Linked DNA regions of Homo sapiens: region 2 is linked to region 1. A link means that fine-mapping ties the variant in region 1 to the expression of a gene that starts in the linked region. Tissue or cell type: whole blood. Region 1 holds a variant in brackets; the other region holds the start of a gene. All regions are shown on one strand. Distances are from middle to middle.

Region 1 (5,000 bases):
GTGTTCCAGTGCGGCCCCGCTTCGGTCATTGGTGTTCGAGAGGGTGATGTGCAGCTGAACTTCGACATGCCCTTTATCTTCGCGGAGGTTAATGCCGACCGCATCACCTGGCTGTACGACAACACCACTGGCAAACAGTGGAAGAATTCCGTGAACAGTCACACCATTGGCAGGTACATCAGCACCAAGGCGGTGGGCAGCAATGCTCGCATGGACGTCACGGACAAGTACAAGTACCCAGAAGGTAGGAGGGACGCTGGCGGGGCAGTGCCGCGAGAGGTTCTATTGTGGGAGGATGGCTCTGAGGCTGGAGAGGAGAAAAGTCCTCACCTCCCCCGCACTGGCAGCCAGTTCTGCCTGAATGATAGGATTGCTCCCTAGCACCTAACATCCACCTCCCAGGACTGTTTCCGGAGGGAACAAAACCATCACGGGCAGCTGTTGTGCCAGTGGAAGTTTGCTGCAGGGCACAGGTGGCTGTCAACCCAGCCCATCTCCAGCTGTGTCCCTGTCTCAACTACACAGCTAGGGTGACAGCACCGTGACTGAACATCACAGGGAGAGACATGGCCCCCATGAAAGGCCCCCAAGGGCTTTGGGAGAGATTTCTCCATCAGTCTGCTCCCTTAGCCTCTGAGAAACTCAGGGAGAAAACCATCTGAACGAAGAAAGGGACAAAGAAACCCAGAGACCTGAGCTTGCACTGTGCACATTTGGAGGTCTCCCAAGAAGCCAGATGAGGTGTGATTACATGGTGTGAATGCCTGAGCTCCTGAAATCTCAGGCATGCTACATTGCTCGTCCCCCTGAAGTCACCTTGGAAAGCCAGTTGCTGCGAGGCTGCCTCGACTCAATTATATTCACTGCCCAGAGTTTCTTTTGAAACCAGCAGCGCATCTCTTGGAGCATTCTCAATGATGATAAAAGTTCTGCATTTGAAGACAAAGTTCATTTTTAGAAACAGCCAAAAGTAATTTAGTGCTTGCTCTTGCAGGCCACAGTCACTCCTAAATGGGGTCAACATTTCACACTTTCTAAAATGCTTTGAAATTGCTCATTCCATTGATCTTCACAGTTGGTTCTGAGGGGTCAAGAAAAGCATCCTCATAAAGGTGCACACAGTACCCACAAAGTAAGCCCTGAATCTCTAAGTGACGGTTGGCTAATGGTGTTGGCCGAGTTTACAAAAAAGGAAAGCTGAGCGCAGGTGATGGGGTCTGACTTCAAGTCCAAGTGGGTGCCCCCCCAGGTGCTGGTATTTGTGAACATTTGGAGGCACAGTTTTAGGGTTATGAGATTGGTGGCCTCAATTTGGCCCCAGTCTTCCTCTGCAGGTCATTCCCAGGACTGAGCTCAGATAGACCTTTGCTCAGTCAATAAACATATTCTGAGCCCCATACTGAGTGCCTGCTTCATGCTGGGCCTTGGGGATGCAACAGAGGACACTGCAGATGGGCTGGAGGTGTGGGGATGTAGGACAAGTATTTTCAACAATGTTATGACGTAGAAACAAGCATAGGGGGTCAGGGAGCAAAAACTCGGGGGCGGAAGGTGAACTCTAGCCCTACCAGCCATAATTGTGTGACCTCGAGCAAGTTTCCTCTGATCTCTGAGCCCTCGCTTCCTCACCCGAAGAATGAGAAGAGCAATGCCTGTCTTCAGCGGGATTTAAATGAGCTAAGGTATACAAAGTGCCAAGTGCAATGCCTGGCATATAGTCAAGACTTGATAAATAGCAGTGGTGATCTTTATCAATTTGAACCTCTATAGCCTCACTGGAACAATGACTTCCCAAGGTGACTATTTTGCAGGCGCTGCTTACATGACTGTACGATCCTGTGGGGTTCCTTACCTTACCCCACACCTTGATCTCTGGCTGTCTCAGCCAAACTTCCTAAACAATGGAGAATGGGCAGGTCCGTTGTGGGGGTGGGGGAGGGGGTCCCTGAAGGACTCCCAGCAATGCCCCAGCCCTTATGCGACAGGACAGATCACCCTGCCTGATGTTGCCCAGATCTTCTTACCTAATGACTCTAGCTTCTCTCTGAGGGCCCCAGAGAGGAAAAGCTCATAAAATATGTTGCTAAGTATTGATGCAATAGCAACAGCAAAGGGAGAAAACAGCAGGAGGAAGCTTAGTCTTGAGTAAACCCAGCAGGTGACCTATATAGGCATCAA[G/C]GCTCCAAGCCTCATTGTGCAAACACACCTGCTTCAAGGTCCCAGGCACAGAAGGCTCAGATCCGTGCACTGCCTTCAGCTCTGGGTTGAACTTACAGCTGGACTAGAGGATGGGAAGGCATCAAAAGGAACCCAGCCCACCAGGAACTACCAGCTTAGGTAATCTGGCTGCCTGCCTTCTTTTTAGCAGGGTGTGTGGGAGGAAACTTAGACCAGGGGTCCAGACACCAGGGAACTGGCCCCCTCTCTGCCTCTGCAGATGACTGGCCCAGTCCATCTCAGAGTGGTCTGGACAAGTTGTGTCTCTTCTTAGGGCCTTAACTTGATAGGCATGGACGAGTTGGCCTCTGAAGTCTCTGCAAATCACATGTAATTTATGGGAAGGGGCTTGCTGTATCGTAAAATGCTTACAATAAGTCATCTGGGCCAGGTGAAGTGGCTCATGCCTGTAATCCCAGCACTTTGAGAGGCCAAGGTGAGCAGATCACCTGAGGTCAGGAGTTTGAGACCAGCCTGGCCAACATGGTGAAACCCTGTCTCTACCAAAAAGGCAAAAATTAGCTGGGCTTGGTGGCGGGCACCTGTAATCCCAGCTACTCGGGAGGCTGAAGCAGGAGAACCTCTTGAACCCAGGAGGTGGATGTTGCAGTGAGTTGAGATCATGCCACTGCACTCCAGCTTGGGTGACAGAGTGAGACCCTGTCACAAAAAAAAAAAAAAAAAAAAAAGAGAGAGAAAAAAAATAAAAAAAGAAAAGAAAGTCATCCAGTGCCTTAAGCATTTCACAGGTTGTTGGGGAAGGTGGGAGAATGTAAGTGTGGTCTGCAGACGTCAACATGGTCACTCTTCCTTGTGTACCTGTGTTCCTGGAAGGTCAACACCTTCTCCTAGATCTATCTTCAGGTCAAGCCTTTTGTGAACTGCTCAGTCAGCCCTGGCTCAGAGGCTTGCAGTCGGTTACTCAGCTCTGTGTGCCCTCAGAGCCATTTTCAGGTACATCCCTGTCATTCTCTGTGGGCTACTTACGCCATCACACTCAGCAGCACCCATAGCCTGAGTCAGAGTCAGAAAACCCATCTTTTTATCCAGTCTTTGCAGTTTTGAAAACTGAAATCTCTGGACAATTTCAACTAGTCATAACTTGGAACCACACCGACCATGGGAAGTCCTTGTCAACCGGCACAGATCAAAATGTCACTCCTTGACTCTCAAAGCACCTTTAGAAACAAGGCAGAAGAACATGGTTTACCAAAAAAAATTTTTTAATTAAGTCAGTTCTAAATCATCACCTTGCTTTTTGGCTTATGAATGTATTCTAATCTTTTTCAGCTCAGTTCTTATGATTTATTTTGAAATTATCTGTTTTTTAAGTCTCACAAAAGACATTTTATCAGAAAAAAATGGAATCTAACCTAATTAACGCAAGCAAATGATCAAGCCACATAGTAATTGTGTGCAGGTGTGATAAAGCTTTTCTACAGATTTTGGGAAATTTAGAGCTGATTAGAAAAGCGCCAGAGACCAACTGGTCTGTGAGTCTCCGGTTAAGACAGGCGAGCTGGAGACCTGTGAAAGTCGAATGCCTGCTAGGGCAGCAATGGAGCCAGCACCAGTCCTAGGCCGCCTGTCCAGGCAGGGTACTGTCCTTTGCCCAGGTTGCCATCACATCCCTGGCATGTTTCTGTCTTTTCCCACCACACAGGCTCTGACCAGGAAAGACAAGTGTTCCAAAAGGCTTTGGGGAAACTTAAACCCAACACGCCATTTGCCGCGACGTCTTCAATGGGTTTGGAAACAGAGGAACAGGAGCCCAGCATCATCGGGAAGCTGAAGGTCGCTGGCATGCTGGCAGTAGGCAAAGAAGTCAACCTGGTCCTACTGCTCAAAAACCTGAGCAGGGATACGAAGACAGTGACAGTGAACATGACAGCCTGGACCATCATCTACAACGGCACGCTTGTACATGAAGTGTGGAAGGACTCTGCCACAATGTCCCTGGACCCTGAGGAAGGTAACGCATCCCGCAGTTGGAGGAGATCCACGAATCCGAGGTAGCCAATGGCCTTCTGGGGCTGCAGGGTGTCTGCTGGGCTCCAGGTTAGTCAGCTACGAATGGAGCAGCCAGCGGCCCCTGTGGTTAAGCCATGTATTAATGCTTTGGAAGTTTCTGTCTCTATGAACAGAGTGATGCCAACCAAATGTCAGGGTGGTGCCAACCAAAATCCTTTTACGCCCCAAGGGAGGAAGGAGGGAGGCTTTGGCAGTTCATAGCTATGGCACAATATCCCTTACAAGTATATACCACCTCACACAGTTTGACCGTCTAAAAAAAGGCAGATTTTCAGTGTCCATCTTATAGAAGCAGAAAGTGAGGCTGGGAGAGATTTGTGACTTGCTTCGGAGATAAAGTATCATAGATAGTAGTGGTAGTGCTGAGTCTTGGTCCTAGGTTTCCTGATACTGAGTCCAGAGCCACCCCCTGTTTTCTATGTTGTATTGTTCTTACCCACCTCACCCCCACTCCCACAACAAATCGCTTTTCAAATTTGACCTCAGGAGGGTGGCAATGACCACGGGACCCTAAACCTTGGCCCATGGCCCTCCCACAGCTGCCACGGGGTGGGTGGACCTTCTGGAATCCTGACAACAGTGACAGGTTTTCTTAGAAGTCTGAGCGTTTGGGAGGAACAGTGACTCCTTGCCCTTGGGTAGCAGGGATGGGAAGGGAACAAGGTGGAGCAGATAAAGGTTGTGCTGTGGAAGGATTAGAATGCAGGTGTGCCCACATTGGTAAAATCCTTCAAGCTGTCATGAAAAGTTTG
Region 2 (5,333 bases), 34 kb before region 1:
TGCCTCAGACTCCCGAGTAGCTAGGATTATAGGCACGCACCATCATGCCTGGCTAATTTTTGTATTTTTAGTACAGACAGGGTTTTACCATGTTCCCCAGGCTGGTCTCAAACTCCTGACCTCAAGGTCCCACCTCGGCCTCCCAAAGTGCTGGGATTACAGAAGCGAGCCACCGCACCCGGCCAGGCTAATAATATAATATTATTAATACTAACTTTTTACACTGGGCTGTGCCCAGCGCCGTGCTGAACCTTTTACACTTGCTGTCTCCTTTGATTCTCAGAGCAATTCCACTCAGTTTTACAGTTGAGGAAACAAAGCCTACGAGAGGTGAGGAGACTTGGCAGAGCCAAGACTGTGTGTCTTCAGGTTCCCTTTTAAGGGGAGCACCACCTCCCTGTCACCTCTGCAGCTTTCCTTGTCAGGTCATTGAAAGGAGTGCCCGGGGTCTGATTTTCCTTGGCTCCCAGGCCAACAGCAACAACCACAATAATAAGCAAAACCCCTCCTTTCCTTTAGACCACACACAGAAGCATACAGAGCACTTTCACACCCATTCATCCCATGCCATTCATGGAGCTGTCCTCCAGCTTTCTGGCAGGATGAACTTGGCGTCATGAGGCCTCGCCCAGAGTCACAGCTAGTGCCCGTGGTAGGAGCCAAGACCACACATGAGTCTCCTCTTGGGTCCAGGCTCTTTCCATGTCCCTCTCTACCCTCTGCTCTTTTCTTAGTCATCTGCCAGAGCCAACAGTGCATCCCATTCTGCCTGGCATGGGTGCACAGCCAGCTGTCTTAGAGCCCCAGAGGCCTGGGAAAGGCTGCCTCATTTAGGCGCTGACCTCCAAGGTTAAGCAAACACAGGCTCTGGAGCCATTTACATATGGGTATGAATCTCGTGGTTGGAGACTCAGGTTAATCTCTCTGTCCCCCATAAGATGGAAATAATAATAGCCCCTTTGCATAGGGTTGCTATGAAGATGAGAAAAGCTAATATATGTAAAGTGTTTAGCCAGTGCCTGCCCACAGTAAACACTAAATCAATTAGTTATTATTAGTAAGCACTAAATCGGTAGTTATGATTCCCATCTTTACAGTGATATTGATTCACTTATTCAAGAATGTGCATGTTCCAGCCACGTGTCAAGCCCTGTGCTAGATTCTGAGAAGAAGATTTGAATGATATGCAACCTGTACCTTCAAGGAGCTCAGTCTGGAGATGGGGACATATATAAACAGATAGTTCCAGTGCAGTGGATACATACGGTAATAGAGGTTCTAAGATGTACAAAAGGCTGTAGGGGCCTAAAGGACGGAGAAAGGACACTGATTTCTCTTTTTCAATTTTCCAAGCCACCTGCCTATTCCGTCTTCTCTTTCTCGAGATCAAACATTCTCACTTCTCTCTAAAGACCCAACCTTGTCATCATGGTGCTCAATCTTCCTTCCACACTGTGATGCTGGGGAAAGCCTTGGGGCATTTCTGTTCTCTCGTGAATCCTTGAAGCCTCACTTTAAAAAATATATACTCACTCCTTTGTCCATCGTAAACCTTGATATTTGTAAATATCGATAATAGGAACTTTGAAAAAACATACGCCCTTAGAAACAAGCAAGCAAACAAAAACACGTAGAATGTCAGAGCTTCTCCCCACTCCACACCCTTTCTTTAAACTGATGTCAAGGTGGGCCCAGTGAGGGTCAGTGACGGAACCTGCAGTCTGAGAAAGACATGGCAGAAGCATAAGGTTAGAGGCTGTTCCTGCTGCCTCATTAAAAACAACAATTTTCCCCCAAATCTGGACTGAAACTGACATTCAACGCCAAGTGTGATCTCAGTTTAACCTGCCCTGGTAGATATGCATACACTTCCCATGCGCACCATCTCATGTGATCGTGTCCACAGCTTTGTGAGTTGAGAGGGGTGGGAGTGATTATCCCCAACCACAAGCAAGGCTTCCGGGCTTCAAGGGTTGGAGACCACCCAGGGCTCGGCCAGCATCAGAACCAACGGCTTCTAATTCCAAATCAAATGATGGTTTATGCCACACTACAACCCTAAACAAATGAACTGTGATGTGTCTCACTTCCCTGTGCAAGTGGAAGATGCTAATACATGTGTATCATGAGAAAGGACCTCACAATTTTCTTCTTCTGGGTTCTGCTGAGACGTTTCTTTGATTCAGAGAGAACTTCCCAGGATCAGCAAGAAAAGCATGTCATCATTTCCTAAACCCTACAATCCAGGAAATAGTCCATCATTTTATAAAATTATAAAAGCGAACTATTTGAGTTTCTTTATTATCTGCCCCCTTCTCCCCAAGCTGGTCTTGTACAAACATGATGCACGTCCATTGGGTGACAAGTCTGTCGTAAGTGAAACGTTTACAGGCACTACAGGAATGACCTGGTGCCTCGCCCACTTCATTAGAATTCTAATTGGGGTGTGTAGGAGAGGATTCTATAAATGGTAAGGCAATCCTTGGCAGCCTGTCTGTCAGCACTGTCCGTGCCATTCCCAGAGGAGCCTGAGAAGAGGCAGAGGAAGGCGAAACATGGCTGGTGAGTGCATGGCATCTTCTCCATCAGGTCCTTGCCAGAAGCCTGTGCTTCCCCTGGGCCAGCCTGCCAAGCCAGAGTGTCCGGCCAGGACAGCTGCCTGCCTTGGGGGCTCTGAAGGCCAGACTTCCTATTTTAGGGTGCTAGCCAGAGGCGGCTCTTTCTCAGTGGTGGTTGGGTCCCTCTAGCATATTCTTGGGGTAGAACATCATTGGAATGTAGCTCTGAATAATGGGCAGGGTGTTCAGTGCAGCTGGACATCGCATCTCCTTAGGCAGAGGACAAGCTTTGCCTTGTTTGTGTTTGCGTTTCTTTTACACATCCGTCGCCACCCGTAAAGCCAAAGCAGACAGGACTCGGGTCTCGTGTTTCTCAGTGTAGCTGTATCCAGCTGTCAGCAGTGTCAGCAAAGAAGCACATCTCAGAACTACCAGGGAGTGAGAGTGGTAACATGTAAGTTGATTTGAAAGAAACCATTGTTTATTTCAAATCAACTTACTTAGGAGCATTAGGAATGCTCCTAAGTAAGCTACACATCAGAAGCATCAGACAGGCTCTGTGTAAGTGACTTGATGAGCTGAAGCCTCCCCGTAGCAGGAGCAGGTGTGCCACAAGATGTCCTGGTCCACAGGAGAGCACCAGGGAACAGGGGTTACAAAGAACAACAGGAAGTGCAGGTTCCCCCACTCTATGCTTACTGTCGAGGATATGGGCCTTTGTTAATCAGCACCCCTGCTAAGCAGCATGCTAATTATTATCTGTCTTGTGTGCTCAGCCTAGTAGGTTGACAGGGACGCCAAATCCAAACAAGATATGAGTCAAACTTGTAAAATATTGTGAATGGCGATTAGGGCTGCTGGAAGATTGGCCAAAGACATCACTGAGCCAAATGCAACAGGCAAATGCTGGCTACTTCAGAAGCCACAAAAACTGGGACAGGTGATTGCACATTAGGCCCCCTCCCCTGTCTCCCATTCCTTGCTGTAATGTACAGCATGGCTGGGATGCTAAGAAGAGGAGCTCTGGACCCTACACACTGCAGCAAGAGGGGAGGTCAGATGTCATCTAGCCCATCTCCCTCCCTCCAGGAGGTGGCTGAGGCCCAGGAAGGGGTGGAACCTTACACACAGTGAATCCATCGCAGAGCCAGCTAGGTCTCAGCAGTGCCCTTTCCACCATGTCCTGCTGCCAGAGCTGAGCTCCTACATAAGTGCACATAACATCTGGAACATAAAAAAGCAATTCTGAACCTGGCTTCTCATTTGAGCTTTGTGACCAACTGCTTGTGTGTTCTCTGCCACCCCTGAGCCTCAAGTTTTCAAGATGAAAGCTTTGAAATGAATGCGTTTTGAGGTTCCTTCCAGTACCGACTTTTCTTTCTCCACAAAAAGAAACCAGAGCCAGGGAGTGGACAGGCACGTGCCCAGCCCCCAGGAATGTGCACCTCCCATCCCTGTGCAGGACCTCCCGTGGACTCTCAGGAATGGCCTGCCCGCTGTGAGGCATGATTAAATGTCTCTGTTAACAACCAGAGATGTTCTAAAGTCACAACAGAATGAGGCTGGTGGGGAGAAAATCAATTTTGAAAAGGTGGTGGAGAGACAGGCGAATACATTCAGTCCCTTAAATTTGTCCCACTTGCAGTTCCCAGCTCAGCTCCGAGTCACTCAGCCAGGAAGTTCCCAATCAGTGTTTCTTGGATGAATGAATTTATTCACTGAACACCTAAGGGAGAAGAGCTGTGCCAGGTGCAGTGGGAAATATGGAGGTGAATGAGATGTGGTTCTGTCCTCGGTAGCTTTTAGTCTGATATTTTTTGGTACCACCGGTTTTTTAGGTGAGCAGCATGCAAGGCAGACTGTTATTAAGCTGCATGACAAATACAAAACAAGTGCTACGGGGACCAACAAGAGAAGGAGATTAGTCTTGTCTGGAATTTGGGATAGGGAAGACTCTGAAAAATGGTCACAGACAATGAGTTGGACTTGGTCTGGAGAGGTTTTGCAGGGCAGAGGGAACAGGAAAATAAATGTCAGTGTGAGCAGGTGTGACCCAGGGGACTATCGGGATGACAGGTGTGCTGCTTTGAGAGGACTCTGTGTCCAGCTCCTAATTTAAGGTTCTTGTTGCAATCAGAAGGGGTTCCATTATTCCACCCCTTGGTGGAGAAGGCAGCCTGGGCTGTGGCTGGAAATGAAGGTAGTGGAGGAAGGCCTGGCAGTGATCCGCACCAAGTGGCCTGGCATCCCCAGAGTGGGTGGGAGAGCAGTTTGTGAGCACAGAGGAGGGCCCCAGTGTGGAGGGGAGGCAAGATTCCCCATCCCCAAAGCCACTTGGAAGCCCTGGGTTAGTGGCAGAGTTCTCAGGGTACACACCTGAACCACAGGCTTCTGCCTGCAAATGACCAGAACCTCTGTTTTGGGGACTAATGGCTCTGTCCCTCTGGGGCAGTGAGCTTTCTTGCCAACTACTTTTCCAGGCAGAGCACTGGCCTTGGCTTCAGGGACTTCCCATCTCAAGGCCTCATTTCCTCCACCCCCAAAGGACCTGTACCATTCCCAGCGTCTGGGTCTACCACCAAACCGTTCTCCTTGGAGCTGGGACACCAGTCGCCCCTCCTCCCATGGAAGCGGTCAGGAATTGCTCTTGGGTTCTGGCCTCCTTCTCTTCTGTAAATCTTCTAGGTGCTTCCTGGACCCTCCTCATATTTTTGTGTCTGGCACTGGGACCAAGGCAATATCTACTCTCTCTCTCTCTGAAAAGGAGATGGCCCC

The links. PIP is the estimated chance that this variant, and not a neighbour inherited with it, causes the effect.
Region 2: it holds the start of TGM3, and the variant in region 1 is fine-mapped to the expression of TGM3 in whole blood (TOPMed, PIP above 0.99).

Annotation. Positions count from the first base shown.
Region 1 is chr20:2,328,122-2,333,121 of GRCh38, forward strand. TGM3 (transglutaminase 3) reads left to right here. Exons shown (of 13, transcript NM_003245.4): 9 at 1-244; 10 at 3,881-4,189. Among named protein-coding and RNA genes, the nearest start is that of TGM3, 35 kb to the left of the region's middle. RefSeq lists an enhancer at 1,846-2,428. The variant G/C (reference allele first, on the strand shown) is at 2,179.
Region 2 is chr20:2,293,509-2,298,841 of GRCh38, forward strand. TGM3 (transglutaminase 3) reads left to right here and starts at 2,493. Exons shown (of 13, transcript NM_003245.4): 1 at 2,493-2,562. The coding sequence starts at 2,556. LOC105372503 (a long non-coding RNA gene) reads right to left here. Exons shown (of 3, transcript XR_937203.3): 2 at 3,684-3,782; 3 at 2,313-2,986. RefSeq lists enhancers at 3,197-3,730, 3,731-4,263.